2 separate regions of the Homo sapiens genome follow, and region 2 is linked to region 1. Evidence: fine-mapped expression QTL. A gene starts in region 1. The other region holds a variant in brackets. All regions are shown on one strand. Distances are between the middles of the regions.

Region 1 (2,901 bases):
TAAATTTGAACTCGACGTGAAAATTCTGAATACTTTTATTCAGTTGAGCCGCAATTCCTAAAGCCTGGAACGCGACTGCTCATCTCCGAAAAGACTTTCCAGCTTGAGACAGAGTAGAAGTATAAACTCTATATCGCTTGCCATTTTACATACAAACATAATTGTCGTAATTCATGTTTTTACTGTGTCGACCTAAATAACAGGCTGTCTAAAAACGGTGGTAACAGTTCATTGCAGTGGGAATATGCGCGGCATAGCAAACTATGTGCTTATTCAGGGAGGTAAAGGAAGACAAAGGTTGTTTTTGGTTTTCATTTTTTTGAGACGGGGGTCTCTGTTGCCCAGGCTGGAGTACAATGGTGAGATCACAGCTCACTGCAGCCTCAATCCCCACGGGCTCGAGCGATCCTCCTGCTTCAGCCTATCAAGTCGTTGGGACCATAGGCGCACACTCCTTTATTCCCAGCTAATTTTTGTATTTTTTGTATATATGGGGTTTTGCCATGTTGCCCAGACTGGGACAAAGGTTTATAAAGGAAAAAAAAAATTTTAAATGAGGATTACATCATTTTTCAGAAATAATTATCCTTGTCTACAAAGATCAGTAACAAGGGTCACACCAGTCTGAGTGTCCCTGTAAAAGTATTTTTTGTTTAAGCCTGTGGTTTTTGTAGAGTCTTTTTCGTTATTAAGCATATAAATGTGAGACCTCTCTCTTCATGACCTTACGTGGTTCTGTTTGTGGGAGGGCTGCTTTTTTTTTTTTTGAGACTCAGTTTCGCTCTTGTTGCCCAGGCTGGAGTGCAGTGTCCTGATCTTGGCTCACTGCAATCTCCGCCTCCTGGGTTCAAGCGATTCTCCTGCCTCAGCCTCCGGAGTAGCTGGGATTACAGGCGCCCGCCACCGTGCCCAGCTAATTTTTGTATTTTTAGGAGAGAAGTGGTTTTCGCCATTTTGGTCAGGCTGGACTTGAACTCCTGACCTCTGATGATCCGCCGGTCTCCGCCTCTCACGGTGCTGGGATTACCGGCGTGAACCACCGCGCCCGGCCGAGAGTTTTAAGAACACAGGGAGCGCCTGGTGGGGTCCGGCCTCCTGGGGCCTCGTCGTCTGGTCTCCAGATCTCCAGGTCTCTGGACCCCAGGCGTCCGCGCCCACGCGGGACAGCACGGTGACGTCACGCACGCGGGTCCCGCCCCCACGCAGGACTCCGCCCCATGGGACTCCGTGCCCTTCCTCTCCTCCCCGCACGAGGGGCCGCTCCGAGGGGAAACTGAGTCTGGAGTTGCCGTGCAGTCAGGGAGGAGGACGCCGCGCCCTCCCTGGACTGGAGTGAGTTCTCCCAGATCCGCGGCTGCCCGGCTAGAGGGTCAGCCACGCGTGTTCTCGACGAGCCCGTCACTGAGGAGAGAATTATCCAATCAGGACAGGCAGGGGCGGGGCCTAGGGAACTGTCCAATCAGAGACGTTAATCCGAAGCGGAGCCCTGCCCAATCAAGGGCGCTAGGGGGACGGACTGGAGAATTCTCCAATCAGGGGTGCGGAGTCGACAGCACTGTCCAATCAGAGTCTCCACTTCCCGAGATCTGTCCAATCAGACCCCGAGGACGGTAAGCCGAGTTCCCCTCTGCCTTGCGCGCTTCCCCGCCTACCCCGAGCGGCTCAGGTGTCCTGTCGTGCTCACCTGCGCCGGTCGCTGGACCGCGGGGCGCTAACCCTGGAGAGCCCAGGAGCGGGCGGGACATGGTGAGTGCCGGGCGGGAGCCGAGCCCGGGCCCAGGGCGAGGTGGGGCGGCAGGAACCGGCTTCCGCCCGAGTTCGCAGCCGGAGAAAGCTGAGGGACGCGCGGGGCGGCGCACGACGAGCGCCTGGGCCCCGGGGACGTGGTCACAGCGGCCGAGGGGTAGGGCTGGGGGCAGTCTGGGGTGACAGCAAAAGCGGTCAGGGGCTCGAGGGGTAGTTTCTGGGGACAGTACAGGTCAGGAGTTTGGGGAGAGCTTGTGGGGACAGCAGAGGTGGTCAGGGGCTTGAGGCAATTTAAGTGGACAGTAGAGGTTTAAGGGGCACAGGGGCAGTTTGCGGGAACAGACACGGTCAGGGGCTCGGCGGCAGTTTGGGGGTTCAGTGGAAGGGAGTCAGGCTCAAGGGCAGATTAGGGGGCCAATAGCAGCGGTCAGGAACTCGGGGACAGTTTGAGGGGGCCGTAGAGGCGGTCATGGGTTTGAAGGGGCAGTTTTGGGGGACAGGTGATCAGGGGCTCGAAGGCAGTTTAGGGGGACAGTAGCTGCAGTCGGGAGTTTGGGGGCAGCTCGAGGGGACAGCAGAAGCAGTCAGGGGCTCAGGGGCACTTTAAGGGGGGCAGTAGAGGCGATCAGGGGCTTGAGGGAAGTTTGGGGGGACAGTAAAGGGAGTCGGGCTCGAGGGATGTGTTGGGGGACAGTAGAGGCAGTCAGGGGATCGGGGAGAGTGGGAGGAGAGGGCAGGAGCCGTCAGGGGCTTGGTGGTCAGTTTGGGAAGGTCTGCCAAGGAGGAGGTGGTGCCCTGTCCTGGAGCCTGTCAAATAATAAAATCCTGGGCCGGGCGCGGTGGCTCACGCCTGTAATCCCAGCACTTTGGGAGGCCGAGGCGGGCGGATCACCTGAGGTCAGGAGTTCCAGACCAGCCTGGACAACATGGCGAAATCCCGTCTCTACTAAAAATACAAAAATTAGCCCGGCGTGGTGGCGGGCGCCTGCAATCCCAGCTACCAGGGAGGCTGAGACAGGAGAATGGCGTGAACCTGGGAGGTGGAGCTTGCAGTGAGCCGACATGGCGCCGCTGCACTCCAGCCTGGCGACAGAGAAAGACTCCGTCTCAAAAACAAAAACCAAAAAAAAAAAAAAAAAAAAAAATCCTGGCTAG
Region 2 (2,901 bases), 570 kb after region 1:
GGTTCAAGCAATCCTCTAGCCTCAGTCTCCCAAGTAGCTGGGACTACAGGCGCCCACCACCACACCCAGCTAATTTTTGTATTTTTTAGTAGAGACGGGGTTTCACCATATTGGTCAGGGTGGTCTCGAACTCCTGACCTCAGGTGATCCACCGGCCTCGGCCTCCCAAAGTGCGGGGATTACAGGCGTGAGCCACCGCGCCCTACCTCTTTAAAAAAAAAAAAAAAAAAAAAAAAAAAAAAAAAAAAAGATTGTTGAGAGAAATCAGCATGAAATTAATGGACAGGCAGGACTTTGAGCCTCTCCTTGTCACCGTGAATACAAGAAAAAGGAATCTTTGGTGCTGATGTAATAGCTTGAAAAGCAGTGAAGCCGCGGAGGGGTCAGAGCTCTGTAGCTCGGGAAAATGTTATAAAGCACTGCCCAGATTTGCCCAATGTACAGAAACTTCTAGACTCCTCTCAACTCCTCAAGGATAGACACGAGCCTTCTTTACCTCTCTGCCTTGCTCAGATCTCCCTGTAAAGCACTTTGCAAATAGTTGGTACAGACAAAAGCATTTGTTGCTTCAGTGAAAAGCTGACAAGTTTCCTAAAGAATAAATCAGCATGGTGTGTATTAGTTTCGCAAAAAGTTGGCTGAAAACCTCCAAGCTGCAACCTCCCTAGGCCACGTGTACGGCAAAGAAAGCAAAAGTTGGCCGGGCACTGTGGCTCATGCCTGTAATCCCAGCGCCTTAAGAGGCTGAGGCGGGTGGATCGCTTGAGGCCAGGAGTTCGAGACCAGCCTGGCCAACATGGCGAAACCCCGTCTCTACTAAAAATACGAATATTAGCTGGGCATGGTGGTGCATGCCTGTAATCCCAGCACTTTGGGAGGCCGAGGTGGGTGGATCACCTGAGGTCAGGAGTTCGAGACCACCCTGGCCAACACGGCGAAACCCCGTCTCTACTAAAAATGCAAAAATTAGCTGGGCATGGTGGTACACGCCTGTAATCCCAGCACTTTGGGAGGCCAAAGTGGGAGGATCCCTTGAGGCCAGGCGTTTGAGACCAGCCTGGCCAACATCACAAAACCCTATCTCTACTAAAAATACAAAAAATTAGCCAAGTGTGGTGGCGTGCCTGTAATCCCAGCTACTTGGGAGGCTGAGGCATGAGAATCACTTGAACCCGGGAGGCAGAGGTTGAAGTGAGCCCAGATTGCTCCATTGCACTCCGGCCTGGGCGACAGAGTGAGACTGTGTCTCAAAAATCAATAAATATATAAAAATAAAAAAAGAAAGCAAAAGCTGAAGGCTGGATTCATCCTGGGTGAATTACCCATCTCATTATAATGCAAAGTCCATTTTAAACCCAAGTTTCTGGCTGGGC[G/A]CAGTGGCTCATGCCTGTAATCCCAGCACCTTGGGAGGCCAAGGAGGGAGGATCACTTGAGGCCAGGGGTTGAGACCAGCCTGAGCAACATGGCGAGACCCCCATCTCCACAAAAAATAAAAATAATTAGCCAGGGGTGGTGGTGCACGCCTGTGGTTCCAGCTACTTTGGAGGCTGAGGCAGGAAGATCACTTGTCCCCACGAGGTCAAGGCTGAAGTGAACTATGATTGTGCCACTGCACTCCAGCATGGGTGATAGAGCAAGACTTTGTCTCAGGAAAAAATAAATTTTTTTAATTTAAAAAAAGTTTAGAACACCCATATTTCTAAATTGAAATAAATTCTTACTAAGCTGCAAAGTCTGTTTAGAGTTAAAAAAAAATAAGTCAGCCAAAAGAAAATCATTTAGTGCTGGACAGACCAAAAATAAAACCTGCCTGTTTCAATGAATCTTTCTCTTATCACTCAGATGCAATGGAGACAGCCGGTCTCAGACAAGCGAGCGTTTTAATTCAGAGAAAGGCAGAGAGAGAAGGTTCTGGAAGGTCCTTCACACTGCTAATCTCAGAGTAAAAATATCTTCTAGAGTTTTATTATCTTTTTTTCCAAAGACTGGGGGTGGGAGAGAATGAAATACACAGGTAGAAGGAGGGAAGATAGCCCATTTCGAGAAACAAGAGTGGGCATGGAGGTTGACAGGTGACCTTGAGGTGGGAGGAAGCCCTTGACAAGAAGAGGCATCATTTATTTTTTTTTTAAAGCAACGTAGGAGGGTGTTACTGGCCGGGTTTGAGAGATATGTGAGAATGCCCCCAGGCAAACCAAAAAGAAAAGTGTGTAGCTGTAAAACCAAAGAGATCAGTAGGAGGAGACTCGCCCGCCTGCGTGACAGGAAAAAGCTTCGAGAAGAATGGACGTGGGATCTCAGATCTGAACTGCGCACCAAGATACAGGGAAGAAAAAAGAAGGGGCCAGGCACAGTGGCTCACGCCTGTAATCCCAGACTTTGGGAGGTCAAGGCAGGCGGATCACTTGAGGTCAAGAGTTTGAGACCAGCCTGGCCCCCATCTACTAAAAATATAAAATTTAGCCGGGCATGGTGGCGGGCGCCTATAATCCCAGCTTGAACCCGGGAGACGGAGGTTGCAGTGAGCCGAGATCGCACCAAAATCATGAACCATCAGCATTGATGTCTCCAAATTGAGCCTGTGGCTCGACCAGCCTCCAGCCCAACAGACGCCACTCTCTCGGCATCCTCTGGCCCAGGCGGGAGGCAGGAAGTCCGACTCATCCCAACGCGGTGGTGATGGGGTGAGAGTCCCTGTCACCCAGTGAGTCAGTTTGCTTTGGGGTGACCAGTTGTCCTGGCCCTGGTTTGCTCAAGGCTATTCTAGTTTTGTTTTTTTTTTTTCTTGGTTTTGTTGTTTTTGAGACGGAGTCTTGCTCTGTCGCCAGGCTGGAGTGCAGTGGCACGATGTTGGCTCGCTGCAACCTCCACCTCCTGGGTTCAACCGATTCTCCTGCCTCA

The links. PIP is the estimated chance that this variant, and not a neighbour inherited with it, causes the effect.
Region 2: its variant is the best candidate, but not a certain one, in a credible set for the expression of ZNF77 in lymphoblastoid cells (GTEx, PIP 0.85).

What each region holds. Positions count from the first base shown.
Region 1 is chr19:2,943,683-2,946,583 of GRCh38, reverse strand. ZNF77 (zinc finger protein 77) reads left to right here and starts at 1,613. Exons shown (of 4, transcript NM_021217.3): 1 at 1,613-1,746. The coding sequence starts at 1,744. RefSeq lists an enhancer at 1,218-1,377 and silencers at 1,448-1,697, 1,838-1,917.
Region 2 is chr19:2,371,597-2,374,497 of GRCh38, reverse strand. The region is part of intron 1 of TMPRSS9 (transmembrane serine protease 9); the gene reads right to left. Among named protein-coding and RNA genes, the nearest start is that of TMPRSS9, 13 kb to the right of the region's middle. The variant G/A (reference allele first, on the strand shown) is at 1,374.